Homo sapiens: one gene and its partners. The protein of the gene in region 2 interacts with the protein of the main gene of each other region in a pairwise test. Each region holds a gene or a part of one and is shown on either strand. Other genes may lie near its edges.

Region 1 (5,099 bases), on a different chromosome or scaffold from region 2:
GGAGGTGAACTCATTTGTGACAGAGCTAGGGCCAGAACGCAGCTCTTCTGACACCTAAGCGAGTGTTCTGGATACTGTACTGAGCCTCCTTGTAGCTCAGAAAAGAATGGCCAACTCTTCCCTCCACTGCGGGTCCACCCTCCCAGCTTGCCAGCTCCTCAGCACACATTTCCTGAGCATCTCCCATGCACACTGTGCTGGGTGCCAGGGCCTCAGAGGTGACGGGGGGCCTGCCCTTTAGCACTCACAGGCTGGGAAAGAGACAAGCTGGTCAAGAGCTCCCCACAGTGAATGCTATGGGAAGGCTCAGGGGAGTTTGGAGCAGACACTGCCACAGCCCGGGAGTCAGCCCTGCTGGGCCGAGACAGACAGATGTGCAGCCAGACGTTCCTGCCCAGCCCGAGGAGCCCAGCATGGCCTGGCTCAGCAGCTCCATCCCAGCTGACGTGCTATCTCCTGTCGCTGATGTGTGTGTGTTCCCGCCCTGAGATACAATCCTTCTTCTGGAGCGCTCCTTCCAGCTGCAGGCCCCAGCTCCCAAGTCCTGCCCGAACCCTGGATCTTGAACTCTGGTCAGAGCGCTCTGCTTCCTTGGTGGCAGCCACTCCTCTCTCTTGGTCTTTTTCCTGCCTCCTGCTTCCTGTTCTCCTATCCTTGTGTCCTGGCTCACCATCAGAACTGGCAGCCTCTCCTGGGCTAGAACCAACAGGATTTTGTGTTTCTCTGGTCACTGCTCACATTTCTCAGGGCTTTATGCACAGTCCATTCTCATGGTCTCAGAGGAGGGATAGAAGAGGCTCCACTTGGGGAGTCAGGGAGATGGGGTGCCAGGTGAACGGTTAAGGAGGCGGTCAGCAGAGCCTGGCTGCAAAGCCCAGTGGGGAGTGGGGATTTGCTTTGTGCAGAACGGGGTCAGGACCGGGCCTGTCCCACAAGCAGCTGTGTGATCCAGGCCAGACTGTCCCCAGTAGGAGCTTAGAGAGAGCAGAAATGTGACCACAGTGTTTCCCTGTACAGGCACCTGTGCCATCTGTGTCTGTGTGAGAACCAACATGAAATGAGCAATGCCCAGGCTTGGTCCTCATGGCATATTGGTTTGGGCTCAGTGTTGATTGGCCCCAGAGTCTCAAGATGCCCTCACGGTGAGGTGCTGAATCATAGGAGGCAGGGGGAGACCCCTGGGGAAGACAGGGAGGGGGCTCCCTGGGAGTTACTTCCTAGGGGCTGACTAGAATGGAATCTCTCCCATCTCCTTTCCCATACCTTAATTCTCAGCCAGCTCTGAGCCTTTTCTGGCATTGGTGGAAAATTCATTTCAGAAAGAATGGGTGTCCTAGGACACCTTTAATCATTGCAGCCTCAGGGGTGGGGTAGGTGGAGAGTGGCTTCAACTTCGGCACCAAAATTCTATCTCGTAGCATCTTGGACTGGCTCACCATTTTGATGCCATTGTTTTCTTCACTTTTGAAATTTCTCCCTCTCCACCCTTGTGTGGTTGACTGAGCAGAACTGGGACTCACAGCTGTCCACGTCAGGCAGAACACCTCACTCCTCTGCACCTCGGTCTCCTTCCTTGTGGATATGGGATGCCTTGGCTCTGGCAGCTCTGATACAGGGGCTGGGGGCCTCCCTCCTCTCAGGCCCCCTACTGCCCTGATCCAGGATGGACAGCTGGCAGGAAGGACAGATGGGCTCAGGCAGAGTTTGGCACTCATATTTATTACAGGTTGGCAAGAGTGAGGTTCCCGAGGCAGTGTCACTCCTCATCGTGCATTTTTTGCTGCAAAAAGAATAAGAGGTGTGAGGGGGCAGCTGGCAAGAGGGAGAAGTGTGTGGGGACAAATCCCTGGGGCTTTCAGAGGCCTAAGGGAGATGCCCTTGGAGGGAGAGGCAGGGCCCCAGGGATCCTGTGGTCCCACGTTAGAGGCACTTGTGGTTTAGGGGGATGGAACTGGGGATCTCTGCAGAAGTTCCAGTCAGTGGGGGGCTGTTTTGAGCAGGAGAGTGGATTCTCAGGTTATGTAAGCTATGGGACCCTCAGAACTGCCTACATATAGGGCAAGCAGTGCCCACTCTGAAGGGCACCCATATCAGGGGGCATGCTAATGTGGAAGTGACTAGTGAAGCCCAGGGGAGGGACCCACCTTGGCACCAATGTCACGGCTCTTGGCTCGAAGCTTGTTGACCTGGGACTCAGCGATGTCCGCCCGCTCCTCTGCCTCATCCAGCTCATGCTGCACCTTGCGGAACTTGGACAGGTTGGTGTTGGCTTGCTCCTCCTGTGGTGGGACAGTGGGGATGGGTGAATGAGCTGGAGATGGGCTATGGGATTCTCAGCCTCTCAACCTGAGGTTCCAGCTCCCTGTCCCTGAGGCACCCATACCTCATGCATATTCCTGCAACAGCCTTCCCAAGGGTATCCTGCAACTGCCTTGCACTCTTCTCAAACATGTCCAGCACTCAGAGTCCTTCACGGCCATCCACTGCCCCAGACAAATCCCATGCTGCCCGATCTGGGCCCCTTCAGAATCCTGTTTTGCTGCACCTGTCCCGGACCCCAGCTTCCTGTGCAGGCATGCTAATCAGCAACTCACATCCACCCAGATGTCTTCCCCACTGCCCTGTGGCTAGCTGGGTCCCCTTCTAGGCCCAATTCCACCGCCACCTTCCTGCCTTCAGCTTCGGCTGCCCCACGTCCTGCACTAGCATCTACACTGCCTTCTGTTGGGTTATGGTATCTGAATTGTAAGCAGCTTGTAGGTGGTGCCTTTGTTAATTCAGAACACCTGACAGCTCTGAGCATACCAGATGTGTCAAACAAATGTTTGAGAGTTAAAGTTTATAGCAAACTCTTTGTCCAGGCCCCTCTGTAGGAGATATTCATTGGTTCTCACAAATAGTAGGTGTGTTGATGAGAAAGGGAAGAAAGCTCTGAACTCACCGCCTCCTCGGCCTGGCGCTTGTAGGCCTTGACCTTCAGTTGCAGCTTGTCCACCAGGTCCTGTAGCCGCAGCAGGTTCTTTTTGTCTTCCTCTGTCTGGGGGTGGGAGGGTGGGAGAAGCTGGTTTGGAGGGGGAGCAAATGCAATCACCTTTCCCTCCTCCATCATTTTACTCTTCTCCCCTTGCCTTTGCTGCCCCTCCCTGCAATGATCCAGGTCAAAGAGGTGGTGGGGAAGATTCTCTGACTCTATCGTAGGTCAAAGGGGCAATGCAAGGTTGTCAGTCAGGGATCCACAGAGCAATGAAGGCTGAAGTCATAAAGCTAGAAGTAGGGGGAGGGGCTCAGAACCTAATGGAATTCCCTAATGTGGTAATATAAAAGCACCAGGTCTGTTCCAGCTCCAGTATGGTGGATAAAGCTCCAACCTGGACTTACATAGGTTCTCTTGGCCAGTAGTTCTTGACCAGAAAAAGAATGCAGAAAGAAGGGGGTATTATCATAATCCAGATTATTCTACATTCTAATATATTGTACTGGGCCAGAATTCAGGCATCGGGATCACTGGCTCCAACGTCACTCGATCATTCCTATCTCTTTATCATTGTATGTGCCAGGATGCCATTTCTACTTCTGTCCACAAATCACTCTGTGGTTCTGTATCTGTAACCTCTTTCTTGTGCCTCTGGTATCCATCTATCAAATGGACTGACACCCTCGTCTCCTTGGCCTTTTCTTCCCAGGTACACTGAAAATAACGGGCCAAGGGCACAGCTCTCAGCTATGCAAGTGGAGGTTTTAGAGCATTCTAGGGTCCTCTTTCTCTGTGGCCTTCTCTTTGTGTGCCAGAAGTTCTATGGAAGATTTCCGGGTCTTTTCCCCTCCCCTGACTCTTATCCCCACAGTCGAAGGTGGAAGGATTCTTTGAACTGTTCTGAAGTCTTCATGGTAGCACTTAGAGTTATTAAAAAAAAAAAAAAAGAAAGAAAGAAACCTGGGGAAAGACTAGTTAGAAGAGTTTTCAGGAAGTAGAAGTAGATTCTTCATTTGCTGGAAAAACTCATAGACTCAAGTCAAACTGACTGCAGAGCGTGAGAAGAACGTTAAATCTACCAACAGCATCTCAAGGAGGAGGTGAGAGGAGCCCTGTGAGGGCGGGGCAGTGGGGCCAGAGAAGAAACTTCCACATCTACTCCTGGTGTCTGGCGTCCGCCGCACCTGGTAGGTGAGCTCCTTGATGCGCCGCTCGCTCTTCCTCATGCCCTTCACCGACTCTGCGTTGCGCTTCTGCTCGGCCTCCAGCTCACCCTCCAGCTCCCGCACCCGCGCTTCCAGCTTCTGCAGCTGCTTCTTGCCTCCCTTGAGGGCGATCTGCTCGGCCTCGTCCAGCCGGTGCTGCAGGTCCTTAATGGTCTGCTCCATGTTCTTCTTCATGCGCTCCAGGTGGGCGCTGGTGTCCTGCTCCTTCTTCAGCTCCTCTGCCATCATGGCGGCCTGTGTGCAGGAGAGAGGTGGCAAGGAACATGGGCCAGGGGCCGGGGCCTTTTGCCCCCCAAGGATCTCCTTTCTCCCATCAGGCCCTCAAATCCACAGAACTGCAGAGTTGGCTTGGTGTTACAGCACAGTGGCCTGGCCTGGACCCAAGGCCTTGTTTCTGTCTTTAGGGGAGGCGGAAGGTGGGCGGTCACTTACATCCGTGATGGCCTTCTTGGCCTTCTCCTCGGCGTTTCTGCACTCCTGCACTGCCTCCTCCACTTCCGACTGGAGCTGGGTCAGATCCGACTCCATCTTCTTCTTCTGGTTGATGAGGCTGGTGTTCTAGACATGGAGAGAGAAAAATGATCAAATATATACTACACTTTGTTACCTGATTTCATACCCTTTCTCCAGAAAGAATTAAAGGTGGTCATTTTTTTTTTAAAACAACAAGCCCACTTTTAGACTATTGATCGTTTTGTACCTGCTTTCCCTTTTCCTATGAAAGTGCATACATTCTAGACATTGTATCTAAGATTACTAAACTCTGAAAAAAGACTTCAAATAGCAAAAGGTCTGCAGTATTACCCTGGAGCTCTTTAGCAACATGTTTACGTAGGAGCATGACAATATTCCAAGGAAGATGGAAACAACTTTTTACCAGGACAATATTCCAGAGATGT
Region 2 (9,322 bases):
AGTCCATGAGGATTTCTGTAACTCAAATTCTCACCAACACTTGGTATAATCAGCCTTTTGAATTTTAGCCATTCTGACAGATGTTCATTGGTATCTTATTATGTTTTTATTAAGGTGGAGCACAACTTCATTTGTTTTTGGTCATTTGGATTTTTTTTTCTCCACAGGGAAAGTTCTACCATTTGGATTTTATTTTTTGAAAATTTCCTGTTCAATTGTATTTTCTGTTGCCTTTTTCAGCTGATTTTAAGGAGTTCGTTATATATTCTAGATGTAATCCATTGGTGGTTATATATATTGCCAATATCTTCCCCCACTAATGTACATGGTATTCCTTTTATTTTCTAAGTGATGTCTTTCAATAGGTTCTTAATTGTAATGTAGTCCACTTTATCAATCTGTGTTAGGCTGTTCTTGCATTGCTATAAAGAAATAACTGGCCAGGCACAGCAGCTCATGTTTGTGATCCTAGCACTTCTGGAGGCCAATGCAGGAGGATCACTTGAGCCCAGGAGTTCAAGACCAGCCTGGAGAATGTGGAGACATCCTGTCACTACCAAAAAAAAAAAAAAAAAACTGGCACACTGGTTCTTGCTGTAGTCCCAGCTATTCTGAAGGCTGAGGCAGAGGGGGCCCAGGAGATCAAGGCTACTATAAGCCATGATTGTGCCACTACACTCCAGCCTTGGTGGCAGAGTAAGCCTGTCTCAAAAAAACAAAAAACAAACAAACAAAAAACCACAAAACAAAGAAATACCTGAAACTGGGTAAATTACAAAGAAAAGAGGTTTAACTGGCTCACGGTTCTGCAGGCTTTACAGGAAGCATGGTGCTGGCATCTGCTTCTCAGGGAGCTTTCAATCATGGTGGAAGGCAAAGGGGGAAGCCTGCGTCCCGCAAGGCCAGAACAGGAGCAAAAGAGGGAGCAGGGGGAGGTGCCACAAACTTAAAGAACCAGATCTCCCAAGAACTCACTGTTTCAAGGACAGCACCACGCCATGAGGGATCCTCCTCCATGATCCAATCACCTCCTACCTAGCCAACACCTCCAACGTTGGGGATTACAGTTCAACATGAGATTTGGTGGGAACATATATTCAAACTATATTGTGATATAGTATATCTTTTCCTTTATGGATATGCTTTGTATTCTGTTTTAAAAAGTGTTCTCTACTTTAAGGACATCAAGATAAGTCCTATATTGTCACCTAAATGCTTTATTTTTTCTACTTTCACTTTTAGATCTACAATTCACATGGAATTAATTTTGGTAATACATAGATATTCAACTGTCCCAATATAATTTCTCTTAAAAAATTATTCCCATGGCCAGGTGTGGTGGCTCACACCTGTAGTCCCAGCACTTTGGGAGGCCAAGGCAGGCAGATCACTTGAGCCCAGGAGTTCAAGATCAGCCTGGGCAACATGGTAAAACCCCATCTCTACAGAAAAATACATAAATTAGCCAGGTGTGGTGGTGTGCACCTGTAGTCCCAGCTACTTGGGAGGCTGAGGTGGGAGGATGGCTTGAACCCAGGAGGTGGAGGTTGCAGTGAGCCAAGATCATGCCACTGCTCTCCAGCCTGGGCAACAGAACCAGACCCTGTCTAAAAAAAAAAAAAAATTTCCACAATGTTCTGCAGTGCCTATGTGTATATGAGTCTGTTTCTGGGGTTCCTTATTCAGGTACACTGGTATGTTTTTCTATTGCACCAATAACATTATCTAGTACCATAGCTTTAAAAGAGATCTTGATGAATGCAAAATAAATCCTCCCACTCTAGTTTTCTTTGGCAAGAGTGTCTGGGCTATTTTGTATCCTTAGAATTGTCATTAAAAATTAGAAACTGATTGTCAGGTTGCTCCTCTCCTTCTCCAAATGAATTTTGTATTGAGATTGATTATAGTTCAATGTGGGGATAATTGACATTTTTACAGATTGAGTCTTTCTATCAATGAATATGATGTATATCTCTTCATTTATTTAGGCCTTCTTTAATTTCACTCTAATTTTTAGTTTTCTGTATAGAAGTTTTACATATTCTGTTCATTGTTAAGAATTTGATTTTTATGCTATTGAAAATAGTATATTTTTCAGAACTTAATATATATTTTCCGCTGGAATATAGACACATAATTGATTTTTCAAAATATTGACTTGTCAGAAGTCTTGCTAAATTCTATATATTTAGTTGTAAATTCTCCTGGATTTTCTAGTTCATAATTGTACTCATGAAAAATGTCCTTTTGTTTTTTATTCCTTTTCAAACTTTAAGCCTTTTATTTCTTTTTCTTGCTTTTATGCAATGGGTAGAGCCATGATACAGTATTGAATGGAAGTAGTGAGAGCAGACATCTTTTACTAATTTTAAATGAAAGGCTTTCAATGTTACACTATCAAGTATGATTGCTGCAGGTTTTTATTAGACATACTTGGTTAGGTTAAATAAATTATCTTCTACTTAGAGTATGTTAAGACTTGTTTTTAATCACGATATTAAATTTTAATAATTTTCTACATCTATTGGAATGATCATATTTTCTTTCTCTTCTAGTCTATTCAGAATATTACATTAATTGATTTCTCAAACAAAGGTAAGCAAACAAATCTTAATCTCTGGAATAAACCCAATATGGCTGTAATGTATTTTCTTTTTTTTGTTTTGTTTTGTTTTGTTTTTTTTTTGAGACAGAGTCTGGCTCTGTCGCCCAGGCTGGAGTGCAGTGCCACCATCTCAGCTCACTGCAACCTCCGCCTCTTGGGTTCAAGCGATTCTCCTGCTTCAGCCTCCCAAGTAGCTGGGATTACAGGTGCATGCCACCACACCTGGCTAATTTTTGTATTTTTTATTTTTATTTATTTTATTTTTATTTTTTTTGGAGACAGATTCTCGCTGTGTCACCCAGGCTGGCGTGCAGTGGCATGATCTTGGCTCACTGCAACCTCCTAATTTTTTTTTTTTTTTGAGACAGAGTCTCGCTCTGTCACCCAGGATGGAGTGCAGTGGCATGATCTCAGCTCACTGCAAGCTCTACTTCCCAGGTTCACGCCATTCTCCTGCCTCAGCCTCCCAAGTAGCTGGGACTACAGGCGCCTGCCACCACGCCCGGCTAATTTTTTGTATTTTTAGTAGAGACAGGGTTTCACCATGTTAGCCAGGATGGTCTTGATCTCCTGACTTCGTGATCCCCCCGCCTCGGCCTCCCAAAGTGCTGGGACTACAGGTATGAGCCACCGCGCCTGGCCACAATTTTTTGGTATTTTAGTAGAGACGGGGTTTCACTGTGTTGCCTAGGCTGGTCTCGAACTCCTGAGTTCATGCAATCTGCCCACCTCGGCCTCCCAAAGTGCTAGGATTACAGGCATGAGCCACCACGCCTGGCCTTTTTTGTATTTTTTTAGTAGAGACGGGGTTTCACCATGTTGTCCAGGCTGGTCTTGAACACCTGACCTCAAGTGATCTGCCCGCCTCGGCCTCCCAAAGTGCTGGAATTACATGCATGAGCCAGTGCGCCTGGCCAGTATTTTCTTTTTCCTATATTGCCAGATATGGTTTGCCAGTATATGGTTTAGGACTTTTCTCTGTTAATATATTTGTTAGTGAGATTAGTCTGTATTTTTCTTTCTAGAATTACCATTCTTGGGGTTTGGTATCAAGCATATGCTAATCTCATAATCTGAATTGGGGAGTATTTCTTTTCTATTCTCAGGAAGAGTTCATTCTATGATTAGTGTTATTTTTTACCCCTCAAATGCTTGGTAGAATTTTCCACTGAAGTCATCTCTGGGACCAGCATTTTGTTTGTGGAGAGATTTTAGATTATTATTATTGTATTCTATTGTGTCATTTTAAAATTTTATACATGTGTGTGTTTATCTATAATATTCCCTTTCTTCTGTTTTCTTTGTGTTTGTTTTATCTAGCTTCTTGAGATGGATGTAAATTTTTTAGCCTCATTTCTTCTAAAATGTATACTTAAGACTAGAAATTTCCCTCTACTACATTACCTATATTCCATACACTTTGATTTGTGGTATTTTTGTTAATTCAGTTCAAAATGCCTTCTAATTTCATGATGATAGCTTCTTTGACTACAGGTTATTTAGAAGTGTGTTTCATGGATGGGTGCAGTAGCTCAAGCCTGTAATCTCAGCACTTTGGGAGGCTGAGGTGGGAGCATCATTTGAGCCCAGGAGTTTGAGACCAGCCCAGGCAACATAGCAAGACCCCTGTCTTTACAAAAAAAAAAAAAAACAAGCCAGGCATGGTTGTACACATCTGTAGTCCCAGCTACTTGGAAGGCTGAAGCAGGAGAATTACTTAAGTCCTGGAGTTTGAGGCTGCAGTGAGCCGAGATCACGCCTCTGCACTCCAGCCTATGGGACAGAACGAGACCATGTCTCAAAAAAAAAAAAAAAAAGAAGAAAGAAAAAAAAAAGTGTGTTTCTTTAGCTGAAATAATATAGGCTTTTTTTCCAGGTATCTTTTCATTATTGATTTCTAGCAAGTTTATATTTTGATTAGAATAAAAACTTCATGCTACTTTAATCCCTTGAAATTGACTGAGACTTGCTCTATGACCCCAATATGAGATTTTTTTTCTGTGACTCTTCCATGTGTTTTTTAAAGCATTATGTATTCTGTCATTGTAGGATATAGTTCTTTATTTATCATTTAAGTAAGTTTATTCATTGTGTGGTTCAAATTTTCAGTATTCTTCCTAAGTTTTAAACTGCTTGTGCAACCAATTGCTAAAAGAATTGTTAAAATATCCCACTTCAGTTCTGGATTCCTTGATTTTTCCCTTTAGTTCTGTCAATTTTCCTTTGTATATTTGGAAGCCATGTTATTAGAGGCATGTAGTTTAAAGTTGTTTTATATTTCTTGTGGATTAAATCTCTTATTATGATATGATTGATCTTTTATATCTGTAAAGTATTTGTGCCTAAAGTCCATTTTGTCTGCTATTAATATATTGATACTAGCCTTCTTTTGCTTAGTGTTTGCATAGTATATCTTCCTCAGTTCTCAAAAAATTTAATTGATTAGCCAGACATGGTGGCACATGCCTATACTTCCAGCTACCTGAGAGGCTGAGGCAGGAGGATCACTTGAGCCCAGAGGTCAAGGCTGCAGAGAGTCATATCCCGCCACTATATTGTAGCCTGGGTGATAGAGTGAGACCCTGTCTCAAAAGAGCAAAGAAAGAAAGAAGAAAGGGATGGAGGGAGGGAAGGAGGAAGGAAGAAACGAAAGAAATAAAGATATAAAAAAGAAAGAAAAAATTAATTGAAATATAATTCATATATAAATTCTCTCTTTTAGTGTACAGCTCAGTAGTTTTATTCAAGAGTTGTACAATCATTATCACTAATTCTAGAACATTTTCATCACTCAAAAAACTGTACAGTTAGCAGTCACTCCCTATTTCCCCCTCTACAAATCCCCTGGGTACCACAAAGCTACTTTTTGAATCTACAGATTTGCCTATTCTGGACATTTCATATAAATGAGATCATATATGTGGTCTTTTGTGTCTGACTTCTTTCACTTAGCATAATTTTATTCAAGGTTTATTTATACTGTGGCATGTATCTATACTTCATTCATTTTTATGGCCAAATAACATTCCATTGTATGGATATACCACATCTTGTTTATCCATTCATCAGTAGATGGCCATTTGTGTTGTTGCCACTTTTTAGCTATTATGAATACTGTTTCTATCAACATTCATGTGCAGGATTTTGTGAGAACATATGTTTTCATTTCTGTTTCTATATACTTAGGAGTGGATCTTTTCCTGTTCTTGTACTGTCCACTTTTCTCTACCTTTATTTTTTAGGTGTGCCTCTCATAAACAACACTCAGGATTTTGTCTTTTCTTTAACTGGACAACCTTTGTATATTAACTTGGAACACTTAATCATCAGGGAAGTACAAATTATGACCACCCTGGGATATGGCTTTATGCAGTAATGGATGTATATCAACGGGGACCCTTATACAGTGGTAGTAAGAGTATAAATGGGCACAATCAATTTGGAAAACAATTTGGCTCTGACTTATAAATTGGAACATTTACATACACTATGATCCAGCAATTCTAATTCTAGATATGTACCCAGTAGAAATAATTCCACTGGAACACCAAGAAGATAAAAACATTAATTTTAGAAACATTATTGCTTATAATAGCAAAGCTCTGGGACCCAAATATTCACATTCATTAGAATGGATAAACTGTGGGATAGTTATATATTTTGGAGATCATGGCATATGAATATATAAGATACCTTTCTTTTCTTTTTTTTGAGCTATATAATTTCCCATGATATGGGTAGACTATAGTTTACCGATGAAATATTAGGTTGTTTACAATATTTTGCTGTTATGAAAAACACTGCGAATAACTTCAAAAATATTTGAGGGATAAATTGCTAGTGTGGATGAGCATTAGTGAGTTTAGTAAGTATTACCAAGTTTCTCTCCATACAGAATATAATAATACCACCATTGATGAAGGAAAGTGTCTGTTTCCCTATGTTGTTGCAAATTTTATTGCTTTCTTTTCCAACTACATTACTTTCTATTTACTTTACTTCCTTTATGGTTTTCCTATAATGTTGAATAGAAGTGATTGTGAATGTCTTTGCATTCCTGAATTTGAAAGGAAATAATTCAAATAATTGTGAATCAAATTATTTTATTATTACTAATTTGATCAAAAATCAGTACGATTATTTTAAGGCCATAGGATATTCCATAAAATGTACCTACCATAATTTACATAACCATTTTCCTATTATTGAGTATTTTCCTTTCATTTCTGAGATTCAGGTCAAAATCCTTAATACTGCGTCATCCATTTGCAATTTATTTTACACAAAAGGAAACAATCCCAATATATTATCACTTAACTGAATTTCTACTTGTGCATATGGTGTCCTGATTAGATTGATATCTCAAGATTCCAGTCTTTTTAAAAATCTCCATTATTTAACCATTTTCCTATAATTGGACATGAAGACTAGTTGCAGTTTTTCATTATTATGAAATACACAGTAACAAAGGAATCATATATTAGATATGAGACCCCCAAGAAAATTGTTCACCTTCTTTAAAGCTTAATTTTCTCATCTATACATTAGTCAATAAAAGTACCTATATTATAGTATTTTATGAGAGTTTTTAAATATGATATGGCATGTAAAGTATATAAAATAGTTTTTGGAGCATGGAATGTGTTCTATAAATATTAGCTATTATGATCATTATGGTACTCAATGAACAGTCTGAAACATTGCTTTTTTTCTCTGGTACATTTAGGTCCTTTCTGAAATGGTATCTATGATTCAGCTATTCAAAACCTAATGAAGTTGGTGACTATGACAATGTGGAGAAATCATGACAGAAAATGTGGTTTGTACTGGGGCTGTCAATGCTGTAAAGGAAGTTTGGGAAAAAAGAATAAAGAAACTCAATGAAGACCTGAAGCGAGAGAAGGAATTTCAACACAAGTATGCTAAAACATATTTATTATTTTGAATTAGTGAAAATTCATATTATCATCACCATAAAAAAGAGCATTCTAAATGCCTTGTTATTGAATTTGATATAGAATTTTATTTACTGAAAACTCAAAATATACTTAAAGAAAACAGCTGACTCAATTAAATTTGTCTATGCGATAGGAGTCACAAAAAATACAAATGTGAAAATGGTAGCTATCTTATACCCTCATAGGACTCTGTTTAACATTCATCAAAGTTTGATTAGTATCATATAGTCTAATTTTCAGGATTGTATGTTCAGCATTATATGCCCTAGGACCTAAAACAACATTTGACAGTAGAAGGTACAGTAGATTCTCATTTATTTGAATAGCCATGTGTTCTAGCCAGAGCTGCTGGATCACTTGATTCCTTGATCTGGGCTATATTTATTTGACTCTCATTTCCTCTGCCTCCATTTTATCTTACCTACTTTCCTGATTGGATGTCACCAAAAAGTATTCTACTAATCCTGCAAAAATAGTCCCTTTCCTCATAGATGCATATAGTTCCATACAATTCTCATTCATTGTCTCTTTCTATCATTATTATTATTATTATTATTATTATTATTATTATTATTATTATTATTTTTGAAATGGAGACTCACTCTGTCGCCCAGGCTGGAGTGCAATGGCATGATCTCAGCTCACTGCAACCTCCGCCTCCCAGATTCAAGTGATTCTCCCTGCCTCAGCCTTCCAAGTAGCTAGGATTACAGGCGCATGCCACCACACTCAGCTAATTTTTGTATTCTTAGTAGAGACAGGGTTTCACCATGTTGGCCAGGCTGGTCTTGAACTCCTGACCTCAGGTGATCCACCCACCTTGGCCTCCTAAAGTGCTGGGATTACAGGCATGAGCCACCATGCCAGGCCATTGCCTCTTTCTAAACATTAAATTAGCAAATGTTATTTGCCGATGTCAGTTAGCAAATAACAAAAAATTCAACTAAAGATGGTTTAGGCGATAGGGAAGTGAGGCTGTTCTGAAGATAGTCAATGCAAAGCCTCAACATCTTTTAAAAGTCAGCTTTTTTTTTTAATCACCTTCCACTGTTAATCCCTGTGTCAGTCTGATCCTCGGATTAGCTTCCTTCAGTGTTACAAGATGACTGATGCACTTCCAGGCATCACAGCCAATGATCATTATGTTTTCAGAAAAGTGGAAACTATTTTTTTCTATTTCTTCTTTAAGAGTAAAGAAATCTTTCACAGAGGGTCCCTAACAAACCTCTCCTTCACTTCTCATTGGCCAGAATTGGATCATTTGTACACATCTAACCCAGTTACCTTCTAGGGGAATGAGACTGATTGGTTTAGATAAATTAAGATTCATCCCTGGTGTATTAGTCTGTTTTCATGCTGCTGATAAAGACATACCTGAGACTGGGTAATTTATAAAGGAAAGAGGCTTAATTGACTCACAGTTCCACATGGCTGGGGAGGCCTCACAATCATGGTGGAAGATGAAGGAAGAGCAAACGGACATCTTACATGGCAGCTGGCAAAGAGAGAATGAGAACCAAGTGAAAGGGGAAACCTCTTATAAAACCATTGTCTTGGTGATTAACATGTGGCTCCTCATTACTTATACAAATTTCTGCAGCCAGCTTGAATTTCTCCTCAGAAAATGGGTTTTTCTTTTCTATCACATCCTCAGGCTGCAAATTTTCTGAATTTTTATGCTCTGTTTCCCTTTTAAAACTGAGTGCTTTTAACAGCACCCAAGTCACCTCTTGAATGCTTCGCTGCTTAGAAATGTCTT
Region 3 (9,322 bases), on a different chromosome or scaffold from region 2:
GACCTCAAGTAAATAAATGCAGAGTTTTTCAGTGGATTACACATGCAGGGTGAATTTGTCATTCAAGGTCAGTACTGGTACATGGCCCACCTGATTCTGTTTGCAGGCGCGCTCTCTGTGCTGTGAGGTCATTGATCAGCCGCTGCTGCTCCTCTTCCTTGGTCTTAATTTCACTCAGTTGATCTTCTAGAGCGCGGCACATCTTTTCAAGGTTTCCCTGCATTCAAAAAGTGGTAGAAGGCATCTCAAGTAAGTAGTTGGACCAAAGAAAGTTTCAGTAATCTAAACATTCCATATGAGCTGCAGTACTCATTTATTTTGAGAAGAAACTATCTTTACAAACAAAACCAGCAAAGGTCTTAGATAGTGAATGGAAAGACTAATAAGATACATAGTCCAAGCATACAGCCACTGAATTACTTGTTAATCTAACTACTTTACTAAGTTGTACTATACGTGATATGAGAAAAAGGGTGCCTGATTTAGTTCATGAGACGTTTTTGAGATACAAATCATATTTGTGCTAAAGGGAAAAACAAAAAACCAAATAATCAATGTGAAGTGTTGATTGTACCTTGGCTTTGGAGACAGTCTCCATGTTACTAGCAAGGTCATCGATCTCCATCTTCATCTCACTCTTCTCCTTCTCCAGCTTCTGCTTCACTCGCTGCAGGTTGTCAATCTGCTCCCCAAGCTCGGCCACACTATCTGCATGCTTCTTCCTCAGGGTGGCCGCCGTGGCTTCATGCTGTAGGGTGGCCTCCTCCAGGTCCCTGCGCATTTTCTGGAACTCAGCCTCCCGCTTCTTGTTCATCTCAATCTGGGCTGAGGTGGCCCCACCGGCTTCTTCCAGCCTCTCGCTGATCTCCTCCAGCTCCCGGGAGAGATCAGAGCGCTGCTTCTCTGCTTTGGCCCGGGAGGCCCGCTCTGCCTCGATTTCCTCCTCCAGCTCCTCAATGCGGGCCTGGGAATGGTGAAAAATATTAATACGAACTCAACTTCTTGGTGTCAGTAACTTTTCGATGTTAAATTAGCCTGGCGAAAATCATTTAACGTACTTGTAACTCCTTGATTTTCTTCTGCAGCTGCATACCAAGGGCTTGTTCATCTTCAATCTTGCTTTGCAGACCGCTCATTTCAAACTCTTTCCTATTAGAAAAGCCCTTTATGTCAGTCTCAGAAATATTAAGAGTAATTTCCCCACAAAACTGTTGACCTAAAACTGCTTACTTTTTAAGCTTTTCATCAAGTTGTTGTTTGTCATTTTCTATATCCATTGTGGATTCTTGAGCCAATTTTAGGTCTCCCTCTAGTTTTCTCTTTGCTCTTTCTAGATCCATCCGGATTTTCTTTTCTTGTTCCAAAGATCCTTCAAGCTAAAAGTTAATAATCCATGAATATGGTTCTTAGAATGGTAGCACCTTTTGTCCCAGATGAAATTTTTAAACATTATATCTATGCAGCAAACTATTTTTCTATGAATTAGGCAGATTTGTCCCATTGATTCCATTCTCCTTGGTATTTACCTAGTCGAAAAAGTCATCGTTTAAAAGGTAAAATGTGCCTCTTTGTCACGTTGTTACAATAAGTTACTAGTGAGACATTATGCCTTCTGCATCTCCCCACTGGAATCCAATACTTTTCCAGCTGGGATGGACACCATGCTAATACTTCCAAACCATGAACTTTTTTAACGCCTCCCTTACTCAGGCATTTTCAGTGGGTTCTCTATTAGATATCAGATCATGTTTAAAGCCAAATTTATCTTCCACATTCCTAATTCTGAGTGTCCTTTGTTTCTGTGAGAGAAAACCTTATTGATCATTACAACTTCTTTGCTGCTGCTATGCTGCCTTCTTAGAACACCCTCCCTCTTCTTTCTTTTTGCACATAGCCCCTTGTCTTTCAAGCCCAGCGAAAGACCTGTTTTGCTTGTATAGCTTTTCTTTGTGAACACATTAACCTTCCTTTCCATCAATTCTTTTTACCCGTATTGTCTATTATTCACAGTTAACTTTCTTTATTGATTTTAAAAACTTTATTGTGTGTACATCTTAGACCTTGTAATAGGGATGATGTTCCATATTCCTCATTCATAGGAGGCACTTGATAAGTACTCACTATATCATAACGACACAAACTTATGCTTACTTAGTTTGTTACAAAATTTAAAAAATCATTTTTATATAATGTTAGGCTTACATCATCCACTTGTTGTTCAAGTTTGATTTTAGCTTTGGTCAGGGTGTTGACTTTGTCCTCCTCTGCCTGCAGGTCATCCAGGGTCTGCTGGTGGGCCTCCTGGAGAGCCTTCTTCTCCTTGGTCAGCTTAGCAATGGTTTCATCCAGACCCGCCATCTCTTCTGTGAGGTTTTTCACCTACAAAGGTGAAGAAAGCAGCTTAGTTGCTCTAAAGCACCTTTGTTGGGTGGCAGAACCTCTATACAGTACTGTAGAATATGATTGATACCTTGTTTTCTGTGGCATGTTTCTCCTTCTCAACCTTGGCCAGTGTCAGCTCAAGGTCATCAATGTCTTTCTTGAGTTCTGAACATTCATCCTCCAGTTTCCTCTTCTTGGCTGTCAGCTCAGCATTGATCTCTTCCTCATCCTCAGCTCTCTCAGTCACCTCTTTGATTTTGGCTTCTAGCTGGATTTTGGTTTTGATTAGCTGGTCACACCTTTCCTCTGCATCAGCCAAGCTGTCAGCTTCCTGAGAAGAGGCAATAGATATTTTAGATTTTATGAAAATTCCTAGACATTTTCAGATTTTATTAATATTTTGAAACCAAACAAGTAAATTGTTTTAAGCCTTCAGGTTAATTTTTATTAGCTTTCTACCATTCAGTAAATATTGGGCACTTATGAGTCCGGTAATAAAAAAAGGAACTTAAGTCATAGTTCCTGGTGAAATTATGTTACAATTATATTTGTTATAACATATATAATATGTTGGTATATAATTTCGGGTCAGCCAATTTTCTTTATTTAATATTTATTTTCAGGAGCATTCAATATATGAAAAACCAATAGACAAAAGGATTGGGTTTCTAGCAGGTTGCTGGGAGAGAAGGGTACTATCAGAAAAGTGCCTTAACAGGAAGAAATGTCATCCAGTGACAGAGTAGACAAAGGGAATGGAACATGTTCAAGGTGATGCTTAGAGAAGTAGCAAGCATATTTCTCATAAGAAGAAATAGGAGTTGAGATAAACTGTGAGGGAAGGACCATGTCTCTCATTCAAACTTACATCCCTGTCCGGGACTTCACCCAATATTTATTAGTGGATAGTTGATAGAATATTGTTAAACAGAAGTTTTATAATACTATCCTCAAAGGAGAGGAGTATTCTTGGATAGATTATCTCCTGTTTCTTGAAGGCACGATGAACCACTCCTCAATGTGGAAAACCCTGATCTATACAAAGTACAGGAAAGTCACAGTACCAACCTAGGTATTTGCAATTCATCATACTTTAGATTTTCTAAATATGTGTCCCAAACTTGTAGGCACAATGGGACTAGTCAATTCCCTTTCTGAATTCAGAGAACTGGGATGGTAACTTTTAATGTTTCTGCTGTTGGTTTTGGTGGCAGCAATTGAACTGTCTTGTTATTTGTGTTACAAAAATGGGTTAGATAGTGGCTTTTGATCAAATATTTCTCTCCAAGCCTCTGGATAGTTACTGGGACATTAGAATAAGAATATCAACCCTATCTCTCATACTTTGCATAAAAATAGACATTATCTGTGGAAGGCATTGCCATTATCCTTACAGAAAGCATTGCCATTATTCTTGCCATAATCCTACTCTTTCAGGTACTAAAAGTTTCTAAAAATAAAGTTGAGCACAAAGTTGCTCGGGGATTGTAGATACAAAACTCAGAATATTGATTTCAAGTTAATGTGTTTTCATCAAAGTCTCCTTCCTCTTCACTGACAATATTTTTCTTTTTCACAGCTCTTATTTGCATTTTTCAGTAGGGAGAATTTAGGGAGCAAAGCTCACTTTATTTCCTGTTCACATTCTGCTGTAGAAAACAACAGAGGGGAAGGAAAAATGCTTTTATTTTTCCCTTCTTGACATCAAAGAATCCTACCACAGTGATTTTTAGTAATATTGTATAGGGAATTCTATAGAACATTCTAAGGAGTTGTGGATTATTAAAGATTCATAATCTGTCCCTTATTTGGTAGAATCTAGATCTCTCCTTAGTGACCACTGAGCTGAAGTTTTAGCATCAGATTGCAGGAAATGACTTCGGGATACTCACAGCTTGAACCTGGAGTTGCAAGTCATTTTTTTCTTGCATCAGAGTAACCATTTTTTCTTCCAGCTCTTTCCTTTTTGCCTCGGTCTTAGCCAGCTCTTCTTTGGTTTTCTCAAATTCTTCCTTCATGTTGGCCATCTCCTTCTCTGTCTCTGCACTTTTGAGGAGGGGTTTGATCTTGAAATACAGCTTCATCCAGGGCCAGTGCTTCACATTCATGAAGGCACGGACATTGTACTGGATGCAGAAGATGGACTCTCTGTCATAGGAACAGAAATGTCCAAATCAGATTATAATAAGAAGCAGAATTAAAACACCTAAGATGATGAGGTTAAGTAAAGAATTCTTATTAATACCTTCTTTCCACCATTTTCTGGTACTCCACTCTTGCCAAGAACCCTCTGCACATGGCCTGGGTTCGGGTAATCAGCTGGGCCAGCTTCTCATCTCGCATCTCCTCTAGGAGCCCCAGAAGACCAGCTTTGAAAAAGACCTATGTGTGGGAAGAATTTCAGATCAGAAAATTTACATAAAGTTCAAAGGGACAGGAATAGCATCAGGTAGGATTTACAGAATATTACCTTGGTGTGACCAAATTTATACTGGGTGTGGTCAATGTCAATGGACCCCAGGAGCTTCTCTGAAGCCTTCTTGCTATCGATGAATTGTCCTTCAGGGATAGCACTTGCATTTAACACCTTGTATCTGTTTAAGCCAGACAAAAAAATGATATGGCTGTTGCCACAGACAAGAAATCTTCCTGTCTGGCTATAGAAACAACATAGCCACTGGGTAATCTGAAATAAACAAGAAATCATATCTACCCCTTTATCTATCCTCTGTTTATTCAAAGGACTTCAGAGTTTTCTTATGTCAATATGGAGTTTGTTAAGTGAGTTTATCTTCTCTTCAATTTTAAGAGGAGGTATAAAGGATTCTTTCATTGAAAAATGTTTAAAAAGTAATAAAAACCTCTTAAAATAATTTACAGCAAAAATGTCTGACCTCTGTTTGAAGTCTGCATAAAGGATTCTGCTTGGGAAGCCTTTCCTGCAGATGCGGATGCCTTCCAGCACACCGTTACACCTCAGCTGATGCAGGACAAGCTCATGCTCCATGGCACCTAAAAGAATGAATCCACATGCCATACTTCGTGGTCTATCACACACACACTGGAGCTTGTCTGGATATCAGAAATGTCTTACCAGGAGTTTTAGTTTCATTGGGGATGATGCACCGCACAAAGTGGGGGTGAGTGCTCCTCAAGTTGGTCATCAGCTTATTCAAATTCTCCTGTGGAACCATGCGAGTTTATACTTTAAAAAATGTACTGTTTTCTACATTCATATTTATAGACATAATTATTGAGATCTATGACAGTGGTTTAATTCTAATGAATAGTATCCAGATGAAAATTTTCAAAGAGTTATCTCTGGAATTTCCACATTCCTAATATGTCCCCCTGTTTTCTGTTGGTGTGCATTAGAAGCATAGTTTTCTACTTGCTGTTGAAGTGACTGTTCGCTGCTGTTTAATTTCCTAGTATATGTTTTAAATTCACTATGACACTCTAAATATATGGAAATACTCTACCCATTCTTTTTTTGCCTAGATACATGGTCTGATTTTACTACTAATCAATGCCTTCCTCTAATTCTCCCACTTTTTTCTTTGTCTTTTCTTCTTCTTCTTTTTTTTTTTTCTGAGATGGAGTCTTGCTCTGTTGCCCAGGCTGGAGTACAGTGGCGCAATCTTGGCTCACGGTAACCTCTGCCTCCCGGGTTCAAACAATTCTCCTGCCTTAGCCTCCTGAGTAGCTGGGATTACAGGCACATGCCACCACCCCCAGCTAATTTTTGTATTTTTGGTAGAGACGGGGTTTCACCATGTTGGCCAGGCTGGTCTCGAACTCCTGACCTCAAGTGATCCACCCGCCTTAGCCTCCCAAAGTGCTGGGATTACAGGCATGAGCCATGGTGCCCAGTCACACTCACTTCTTTCTTTACCTGACTTTCACTTGTATCTGTGTGTCTATCAAATGTGTATTCCTTGCCATAGATATAGAGCTGTGTCCTCCTACTTATTCCACAGAAAGTGGCCTTTATTAATGCCTATTCTGGGAATTGGTAGAAAACTGACAGCCATGTTACCAAGCGTGTAAAGTTTTCCATCTTTTGAAAATCCTGGTTTTTCCGAATATCTACAGCATCAGTTATTAGAGATGGAATCAGAAATGGGATTGCCAAAAGAAAAATAGACTTTTCTTTTTTTCCTTGAGATGGAGTCTTGCTCTGTCACCCAGGCTGGAGTACAGTGACATGATCTCAGCTCATGGCAACCTCTGCCTCCTGGGTTCAAGCGATTCTCATGCCCAGCCTCCTGAGTAGCTGGGATTACAGGTGTGCACCACCATGCCTGGCTAATTTTTATATTTTTGGTAGAGATGGGGTTTCATCATGTTGGCCAGGCTAGTCTCGAACTCCTGGCCTCAAGTGATCTGCCTGCCTTGGCTTCTCAAATTGCTGGGATTACAGGCGTGAGCAACTGTGCTTGGCCGTAATTTTTTTAAAAGTGCTATTTATTATCACATCTGGTTTCTTATTTCCTTCTTTTGACTCAGGCTCCAATTCCCACCACTGTTCTATCTTATAGCTTTCAAAATCTACTCATTTCGGTTCTATACCAATGTATCTTTAAGCACCTAAATCACTTGGAGGCTCCCAAAGCCTCAAGCAAGTCTCAGCTTTACTTAATCCTATCCCACTGGAGTCTTTTAAGGGTTAAATGACCTCATTCTCAGGCCCCAGAATCGAATTTTGCCGTCTAATACTGACTTCTGCAATTCGCTTTCATCTCTCCTGACTCCTGTGTCTTCTGAATAGTGAGGTATCTCTTCCAAACTATCCCCTCTTCCAAACTATCCTCAAGCTCCCTAAAACTCAGTCTTACCACTACCAGCTGAACTATCTCGTTGAGTCACATCAGTTCTAGAATCCTTGCAAGGTTAGTTTTTTCCCCCACACCATAGAGTACATTTAATATCCTAAATCTAATTAGACAGAGAAAATGAAGTTTGTACCCTGAAGAGAGCAGACACAGTCTGGAAAGAAGAACCCTTCTTCTTACCACCTTTCTTTCCACCGCCAGCCTCTGAGGGGAAAAAGAAAGCAATCATAGGACAGCCTTTCTCTGGTTATGGTTTTTTTTTTTTGTTTTTTTTTGTTTTTTTTGACGAAGTTTCACTCTTGGTTGCCCAGGCTGGAGTGCAGTGGCGTGATCTCGGCTCACTGCAACCTCCACCTCCTGGGTTCAAGCGATTCTCCTGCCTCAGCCTCCCGAGTAGCTGGGATTATAGGCACCTGCCACCATGCCCGGCTAATTTTTGCATTTTTAGTAGAGACGGGGTTTTGCTATGTTGACCGGGCTGGTCTTGAACTCCTGACCTCAGGCAATCTACCCACCTTGGCCTCCCAAAATGCTGGGATTACAGGCACCGTGTCTGGCCTCTAGTTATGTTTTATACATTAGGTAAAAGATTAATTATATTGATAATTACCTGCTTCCGCTCCCGTTGCCCCAACAAAGAGGAGAGCCAGAGTCTTCATTGCAGACTTCTGGTACAGCCCCACCACAGTCTCATTCAGGGGGTCCTTGTTCTTGTCAAGCCAGCCGGCAATGTTGTAGTCCACGGTGCCAGCATAGTGAATCAAAGAGAAGTGGGCCTCAGGCTTGCCTTTGGCAGGCTTGGGCTTCTGGAAGTTATTGGATTTTCCAAGATGTTGTTCATACAGCTTGTTCTTGAAGGAGGTGTCTGTCGCCTTGGGGAACATGCACTCCTCTTCCAGGATGGAGAAGATGCCCATAGGCTGGAAGAATGAAAAGAAATAAATGCCACTTGAATTCTGTCTGCTTATAGAAATAACATTTAACATTAATAATTATCCCATCTGAGTAAATTCATCCTTTAATTCTACAGAGTTAACGAAAACTCGTTCCTTTGGTCAGAAGTCATTAACTTCACAAATATTTATTGGGTGCTGATCAGGAGCCACGTGCTGTATCAGGCTCTGGGATATGACAGAGTAAGACAGATGAAGGCTGTGCTCCTGTGGAGTTTGTGTCTTTACCCCAAAGACCTGAGAGCAATATTTCTCCAAGTGTGACTTGCGAATTAGCTGCATCAGAATCACTTGCTCAAAATGAGGATTCCGATGTTTCATCCTACACTTACCAGAAAATATTTCTAGGGGTGAGACAAGGGAAACCTGCAATTGTACCAAGTATTCTTGGTGGGTCTTTCGCACACTGGATTTTAAAAGCCTCTGCTTTAACGTACAGTAGTAGAAATTCATACTTTGAATGCAGTAATAATGACTTTAGGATGACAAAAAACAGTAAGTAAAAAATATTCTAGTCAGTGCACTTTTTGTAAGGAAAGATGACTTTAAATGTAAGACTTTGTATTGCAAACTGTGGGTAAGTGTTGTGTTCTGGACTCTATAGAAAATATTTAATCTCCTTTTACCAGAATATCTACTTCAGAGTTGGCAAAATAAGGAATTCTCCTCATGTTTTTCACAAGTAGAAATATTTAGCCATTGCCTATATCAAGATTTTATGATTTTCTTTTAAATACTGTACAGCAGTATGATCTGTGGTCTGCAAAAAGCAAGCCAACCTTCTCGATGAGCTCGATGCAGGCAGCCAGGTCCATCCCAAAGTCAATGAACGTCCACTCAATGCCTTCCTTCTTGTACTCCTCCTGCTCCAGCACGAACATGTGGTGGTTGAAAAACTGTTGCAGTTTCTCATTGGTGAAGTTGATGCACAGCTGCTCCAGGCTGTTGAACTAAATGAGTTGAAAATACAAATTAGCATTCAATTTATAATGAAATCTTCTCTTTGAAAGGGGTGTTTTTTTAGTTAGCCAAATTGCCCTCTTAGGATGGTATCGTTTTGTCCTACCTATACCTACACAATGAAGTTTTTGCTGCTGTTAGCATACTTGTTAAAATTGTCTCTTCAACACCTGTCAACAAGCTCTGAATGAT
Region 4 (7,333 bases), on a different chromosome or scaffold from region 2:
GCACAATATCATATAATTCTGAAAGAATTAGTTATGGAAAGGACAAAAGGAATTTAAGCTGTATTTATTCATTCCGATTGATCTGAAAGTTTCACCATAAAAACTGAAAACCTGCATTGAGCATGAAGATGTCAGTATAGAATTCAACCATCTGAGCACTCAATTTGGGAAAATAAGAGTCAAAATTTCTTTCTAACATGGGCTTGCAGAATCTTGTTTTTCACCTAAAAAATGGTGCCATTTCTTTTGTCCATCAGGTGAGTTTTCACGCCAGCTTGATGAAAAGGAAGCTCTGGTGTCTCAGTTATCAAGAGGCAAACAAGCCTTTACTCAACAGATTGAAGAATTAAAGAGGCAACTTGAAGAGGAGATAAAAGTAATTATGATTCTAAGACTGATTTTTTCCCTCATGAGCTGATTCTACATGGAGCCTGTTATACCAGCTTTCAAAAGGTTTTGAAAGTTAAGAGTTAAATATTTAAATATCCAGTAAAATGAAGGTGTAACTGCCTCCATAGGCCAAGAACGCCCTGGCGCATGCCCTGCAGTCTTCCCGCCACGACTGTGACCTGCTGCGGGAACAGTATGAGGAGGAGCAGGAATCCAAGGCCGAGCTGCAGAGAGCACTGTCCAAGGCCAACACCGAGGTTGCCCAATGGAGGACCAAATACGAGACGGACGCCATCCAGCGCACAGAGGAGCTGGAGGAGGCCAAGTATGTGCACAGATATGAGAGAATGAGCAGAAAACTTTGCATATTGAATCAGAAAGACATGACCTTTGAAGATTCAGTGAATTAGTCCACAAATGCTCATTAATCTGCTTTTATGTGCCAGTCACAATCAGGCCCTGAGAATAAGACATGAATAAATCAAATATGGTCCCTGCCTTACGATCCTAAAATCTAGTTAAGAAAACAAAGAAGAGCAAATAATTACACTGATAATTAGGGGCCTCATTGCTGTTTGTCAAGCACAATGAGCTCATCGCTGCATCAGGGGCTTGTACCTGCTTTTCTCTCTGTCTGAAATACCCTCTCCACAGACTTCCCTTTGGCTCTCTGACTTTTAGCTCTTGACTCAAATATCTCTTCATGGAGGCCTTCACTGAATATCTAGAGTAGTTGCCCACCATTTATTTTATTTTGCTTCATTGCACTTGTATCTGTAAGGTATTATTACGGATGTTCTGATTTGCTTATTGTTTACCTCTCTCACTTGTTTGTGGTCTTCATGAAGCAGAGATCTTTTTTGTCTTGGTCACTGCTGCGTAGCCAGTGTCTGGTTCATAAAAGGGGCTCATCAATATTTGTTGAAAGAATGAAAGGTGGCTGGGCAGCATTAATGTGAAGTTTCTAACACTCTTCAGCGTGTGTGGCAATAGCTCATAATTCATATTATGGTTCACTTCTCTCTGAAAACATGTATAATATTCAAGGAAGAAGCTGGCCCAGCGGCTGCAGGCAGCTGAGGAACATGTAGAAGCTGTGAACGCCAAATGTGCTTCCCTCGAAAAGACGAAGCAGCGGCTGCAGAATGAGGTCGAGGACCTCATGCTTGATGTGGAGAGGACAAATGCCGCCTGTGCCGCCCTTGACAAAAAGCAAAGGAACTTCGATAAGGTAATTCCTCCAGCATCTTCTGCTCTTTACTCTACTCTTTTGTCTTTGCAGCAGGTAACAGGTCTTGGTTTTTCAGATCCTGGCAGAATGGAAACAGAAATGTGAGGAAACGCATGCTGAGCTTGAGGCCTCCCAGAAGGAGGCCCGTTCCCTTGGCACTGAGCTGTTCAAGATAAAGAATGCCTATGAGGAATCTTTGGATCAGCTAGAAACCCTGAAGCGAGAGAACAAAAACTTACAGCGTAAGTCCCTATCATATTCAATAATATTCATAACTTGGAAGAATCTCTCCCTTATGTCACATGTTTAACCAAATCCCTACCTGTCTTTTACTCAAACAACAGAGGAGATTTCTGACCTCACGGAACAGATTGCAGAAGGAGGGAAACGTATCCATGAACTGGAGAAAATAAAGAAACAAGTGGAACAAGAAAAGTGTGAACTTCAGGCTGCTTTAGAAGAAGCAGAGGTACATGTAAAATTGTGCATTATAAAAAAATCTGGAAAATAATTAGGTACATCTGCATAGAGTGAATAAAAAGACACATAGCACAAAATTATTGCTGTGCAGAAAAACTTCATAAAGCTTTTGGTTCCTTGCTAATGTCACCTCTTGCTGTCATTAAGGCATCTCTTGAACATGAAGAGGGAAAGATCCTGCGCATCCAGCTTGAGTTGAACCAAGTCAAGTCTGAGGTTGATAGGAAAATTGCTGAAAAAGATGAGGAAATTGACCAGCTGAAGAGAAACCACATTAGAATCGTGGAGTCCATGCAGAGCACGCTGGATGCTGAGATCAGGAGTAGGAATGATGCCATTAGGCTCAAGAAGAAGATGGAGGGAGACCTCAATGAAATGGAAATCCAGCTGAACCATGCCAACCGCATGGCTGCTGAGGCCCTGAGGAACTACAGGAACACCCAAGGCATCCTCAAGGTAAATATGTCCAAGAGATGGTCCCAGGACTATTGGGGTGCCTGCAACCCTGAGAACATGATGTCTCAATGATGGTTTGTTTCACAGGATACCCAGATCCACCTGGATGATGCTCTCCGGAGCCAGGAGGACCTGAAGGAACAGCTGGCCATGGTGGAGCGCAGAGCCAACCTGCTGCAGGCTGAGATCGAGGAGCTGCGGGCCACTCTGGAACAGACAGAGAGGAGCAGAAAAATCGCAGAACAGGAGCTCCTGGATGCCAGTGAGCGTGTTCAGCTACTGCACACCCAGGTGGGATTCAGCACAAAGAACTCTCCTTAGTAAATTTTATATGTCCCAGAATAGATAAGCCTGAGTTTTCATAAGACAGCTAGACCTAATATGTCTATCAAATTTTCTTTTCAAATAATACAGAATAGTAATTCTGCATTACTGAGAAATCTTTCACTGTTTTGCTTTGAAAAACTATTGTTGATTTGCTTCATATAATATTCTAAGGCTGCCCCCGTATTCTATTGTGTTAATATCTTTATTGGCCCTCATTATCAATATTCACATTTCATTCTGGAGAAATGGAATGTTATGAGAAAGTCCATTATACTTTTATCCCTGTGAATGGTCTATTGGTAAATGATAATTATAAAATTATAGAGCTACTTGGTCTGCTTGTGACCTATACACTTGAAGATGCTGAATATTCTATAACATTTATATTTTATTTAATCATATTACATAACACAATCCTTTAATTCTTTAATATTAAAAGGCATTTTTTGACTTGCAAATTTTTATCTGAATTTTTTTCAAGAAGTGGTTACCAATAAATACTTTGGTAACACAATTTTTTAAATGTACAAATTCTTTTTAAACAGAACACCAGCCTGATCAACACCAAGAAGAAGCTGGAGACAGATATTTCCCAAATGCAAGGAGAGATGGAGGACATTCTCCAGGAAGCCCGCAATGCAGAAGAAAAGGCCAAGAAGGCCATCACTGATGTGAGTGGCAGGCACACTTGTCCACTGATTTAGCAGTAAGATTTCCTGACATCTATAACTTTCTTGGTTTTCTTGATTTATTTGCTATTTAGGCCGCCATGATGGCTGAGGAGCTGAAGAAGGAGCAGGACACCAGCGCCCACCTGGAGCGGATGAAGAAGAACATGGAGCAGACCGTGAAGGATCTGCAGCTCCGTCTGGATGAGGCTGAGCAGCTGGCCCTGAAGGGTGGGAAGAAGCAGATCCAGAAACTGGAGGCCAGGGTGGGTCTCCCAATATCTGTCTATTTCCATCTGCTTTCAGTGCCTTATTGGATCAAAGTTCTTAAGAGCCTACTTATTTGCAGGTACGGGAGCTGGAAGGAGAGGTTGAGAGTGAGCAAAAGCGTAATGCTGAGGCTGTCAAAGGTCTGCGCAAACATGAGAGGCGAGTGAAGGAACTCACTTACCAGGTACAGCCAGTAGTTTTTAGCGGCTAAGCACTGGTCGAAGTTTATGTGAAATACTCATATGCAATGATGCAATAGTCATGTGCTTTAGTAATTAAGGTCCTGGACTTTTTATAATCTTTCAGACGGAAGAAGATAGAAAGAATATTCTCAGGCTTCAAGATTTGGTAGATAAACTTCAGGCAAAAGTGAAATCTTATAAGAGACAAGCTGAGGAGGCTGTAAGTATTTTTAAGATTGAAGTCCTCAAATTAAGCTAATAAATAATTACTACTTCTTGTAGTGAACAAGCTGTTTGCTTTAAAGACTACTGCATGCATATTTAACATTTGTTTTTGTACAATAATTCTTGTGTATCATTTGTAATATCAGTAGCTTCATTTTAAAAGTAAACTTTCAATCCACCAAGAATCCTGAAAAAAATTAAAAGCAGAAATAATACAGGCCATATTCTCCGGCCACAGTATGACGGAGTTGTAAAGTGATGACAAAATATAAGCAAAAATTCTTGAGTACTTAAATATTAAAAAAACTAACTTTCTTAAATAACTCTTGGTTTAAAGTAAAAATAAAAACATAATTACTAAATAATTATTAATTATAAGTAAAATCACAAGGAAGATGCTACTTTTACAAACCTACAGAATGTAGTCAAAGCTGTGCTAGGAGGCTAATTCATTGCTTTAAATGCTTTCATTATGAACCAAAAGTAAAAATAAACAAACAGACAGTCCAATAAATAAATTATAAATAATAATAAAACAGTAGAAGTAAGAAGTACTGTTAAAAATAAAAGTAGAAATTGGTGAATTAGAGTATACTATTTTCTATTTGATAACTTCAGTAATATTTGTAACTTCTGGGGAATTAATAAAATAAATGTATTATAACTAGTTTCATCAAGGAAAATAAGAGAGAAAATATAAACAACATTAGAAATGAGAAAGGGAATAAGCTATATACATAGAGGATTATTTTTTAATATAAAACACATCTATCAATAAAGTTGAAACCCTGAAAAAAATTGATGATTTTTCTAGGAGGATATAAATTACTAAGTTGGCTGAATTACTTCTGGAAATGGACCCAAGTCCAGATAGGTCTTTCAAAATTTCAAGGAACAGATAATCCCCCAGCTATGTAGCTGTTCAAGAGCATGGGAAAAGATAGAAAGCTGTCCAGTTCATTTTAAGAAGCTCACATAACCCTCATACCAAAACCTGCCCAAGAGAGGACAGAGGGAGAAAAACTAAAGGCAATTTTACTCATAAAGACAGTTACAGCAAAGATAAATTACTAAGTAGTAAGTCTTACTTTATTAAAGGAATTGTCTTCCAGTGATTAAATAAGGTTAATTCTTACAATGTAAAGATTACCTAATATTAGGTTATCTGTCAATAGAATCATTACATCCAATGCAGGAGGAAAAAAGTAACCATTTTGAAATGTGCCAAAATGATACATGACAAAATCCAATATTTATTTCAATTTTTAAAAACTTAATAAGTTCATTCTTAATATGATAAAAAAAATCTAACTCAAGGGAAAATCATCATCTTATAGCAAGCATTAACAACTATGACTTTAATATTCTTGCCTTCCTCTCTAAGCTTATATTTTTCTTCTTATTCTACTTGTGGTACATATATTTTATGTGTTTTGGTTGCCAAAATAGGAATGTGAGATACGTATGTATGTATGTGTGTGTGTATATATATATATATATATATGACATCAATAAACAAATCTTAAAATTAATTTCAATGATAATCCCTAGATGTTGCTTCTCCATAGATGCCAAGTCCTTTCTTCTATTAGGTCTAAAGAGTCTAGAAAGATGCAAGTATGAGTTCCTTACAATTCCATTTTTATTCTCAGGAGGAACAATCCAACACCAATCTAGCTAAATTCCGCAAGCTCCAGCATGAGCTGGAGGAGGCCGAGGAACGGGCTGACATTGCTGAGTCCCAGGTGAACAAACTGCGGGTGAAGAGCCGGGAGGTTCACACAAAAGTCATAAGTGAAGAGTGATCATGTCCTGATGCCATGGAATGACTGAAGACAGGCACAAAATGTGACATCTTTGGTCATTTCCCTCTGTAATTATTGTGTATTCTACCCTGTTGCAAAGGAAATAAAGCATAGGGTAGTTTGCAAACAATATCCTTAGACTGGTCTTGTCTTTTCTCTTTCCTGAAGCCATGTCAAAGTTTGAATAGTCACCAGAGTTGTCAAACAATCACATTCAATTGGTGACTTTTTTGGGGGTCTACGGCAACACTTTAAGGCTGTAAAGATGTCACTTATCCAGAAAGACTGTTCTAATGAACAGAAATTTGGAAGTCTATTTTATTTCTTTCTAACCTTTCCTGATATCTGAGTACAGTAAAATCTTAGAAAGCTCCTGCTTCCCCTAACATGAACCTTTTTCAGGATAGTACTAGCTATATTCTCACATAGGGGATTCAAACTGAATTGTATCATTAATTCTCTTTGTTGAATAACTGTTATCAAGAATATAAATACAAAATATTCTTAATTAGCCCATGGATATTTACATTATCAATTCCAATGTACCATATGCCCACAGTAGGTGCACTGGGTAATGGGTTTGACACGACCTTGTTCTTCACGAAGCAAGTTTCAAAATTAAATTAAATATGACTCTTCTCCCTATGAAAACTACAGGGTGTCTATCAAATCTGGAGACATAGAGAATATTATTTTTACGTTATAATGTAGTATCCATGAGCTATTAGCTTATGTTTCCAATCTTTATGGTCTCCCAGATAATCATATAAAGAGCCAAAATAAATGACTAAAAGTGTCAAGAAAATATGATCTCAAAGTAGGTTATTCAAATCTATATTCAACACACATAATGATGGGTATGAGTTTGGTACAAAAAGTAGATATCATAGCAATCTGGACCACTCAGAGACGTTTTCCTAGAGGATCAAGATTTTTAAACTGGATGCAGCTGAGATGCATAGCCAAAAATATAACCTTCCTCGACAGAATAAAGGAAGAGCTAAATGGTAACTTCCCATCAAATAGAAAGCAAGAGTATCTTGGTCTAAATGGCACTGTGTGAAAATGATGTAAATTAGACATGGTAGTTTAACAGGTAAGTTGGATTCACACTGTCGCACTGGCCTTAGAAAGGGTGTGGAATTGCTCTTCTCGCTGCATAAGCCCCTCTTTCACTTTGTTCCTGTATCACGTGGAATTGCTTAAGTGCTTTATAACGTGGCAGTAATAAACAAAAACAATATCTTACTTCCTACTTATTGAAAAGTTTATCCAGAGCAAGACAAAAGGTTGTCTGAA

Evidence for each region.
Region 1: the proteins of LRRC39 (region 2) and MYH6 interact in a two-hybrid assay, tested with the Homo sapiens proteins (one study listed by IntAct).
Region 3: the proteins of LRRC39 (region 2) and MYH1 interact in a two-hybrid assay, tested with the Homo sapiens proteins (one study listed by IntAct).
Region 4: the proteins of LRRC39 (region 2) and MYH2 interact in a two-hybrid assay, tested with the Homo sapiens proteins (one study listed by IntAct).

What each region holds. Positions count from the first base shown.
Region 1 is NC_000014.9:23,380,284-23,385,382, forward strand, and holds the end of MYH6 (myosin-6), read right to left. Parts: intron 4,759-5,099; coding exon 4,633-4,758; intron 4,435-4,632; coding exon 4,159-4,434; intron 3,038-4,158; coding exon 2,942-3,037; intron 2,280-2,941; coding exon 2,145-2,279; intron 1,781-2,144; coding exon 1,757-1,780; 3' UTR 1,704-1,756; downstream 1-1,703. UniProt on the Homo sapiens protein: Muscle contraction.
Region 2 is NC_000001.11:100,166,604-100,175,925, reverse strand, and holds part of LRRC39 (leucine-rich repeat-containing protein 39), read left to right. Parts: intron 1-2,555; 5' UTR 2,556-2,595; intron 2,596-7,331; 5' UTR 7,332-7,409; coding exon 7,410-7,522; intron 7,523-9,322. UniProt on the Homo sapiens protein: Component of the sarcomeric M-band which plays a role in myocyte response to biomechanical stress. May regulate expression of other M-band proteins via an SRF-dependent pathway. Important for normal contractile function in heart.
Region 3 is NC_000017.11:10,500,536-10,509,857, forward strand, and holds part of MYH1 (myosin-1), read right to left. Parts: intron 9,121-9,322; coding exon 8,950-9,120; intron 8,138-8,949; coding exon 7,828-8,137; intron 7,422-7,827; coding exon 7,351-7,421; intron 5,565-7,350; coding exon 5,477-5,564; intron 5,395-5,476; coding exon 5,277-5,394; intron 4,977-5,276; coding exon 4,853-4,976; intron 4,765-4,852; coding exon 4,628-4,764; intron 4,531-4,627; coding exon 4,275-4,530; intron 2,714-4,274; coding exon 2,471-2,713; intron 2,380-2,470; coding exon 2,203-2,379; intron 1,377-2,202; coding exon 1,231-1,376; intron 1,150-1,230; coding exon 1,059-1,149; intron 965-1,058; coding exon 575-964; intron 218-574; coding exon 91-217; intron 1-90. UniProt on the Homo sapiens protein: Required for normal hearing. It plays a role in cochlear amplification of auditory stimuli, likely through the positive regulation of prestin (SLC26A5) activity and outer hair cell (OHC) electromotility.
Region 4 is NC_000017.11:10,519,981-10,527,313, reverse strand, and holds the end of MYH2 (myosin-2), read left to right. Parts: intron 1-257; coding exon 258-376; intron 377-518; coding exon 519-715; intron 716-1,437; coding exon 1,438-1,621; intron 1,622-1,697; coding exon 1,698-1,863; intron 1,864-1,965; coding exon 1,966-2,090; intron 2,091-2,248; coding exon 2,249-2,557; intron 2,558-2,644; coding exon 2,645-2,848; intron 2,849-3,429; coding exon 3,430-3,555; intron 3,556-3,647; coding exon 3,648-3,818; intron 3,819-3,901; coding exon 3,902-4,006; intron 4,007-4,128; coding exon 4,129-4,224; intron 4,225-5,881; coding exon 5,882-6,034; 3' UTR 6,035-6,166; downstream 6,167-7,333. UniProt on the Homo sapiens protein: Myosins are actin-based motor molecules with ATPase activity essential for muscle contraction.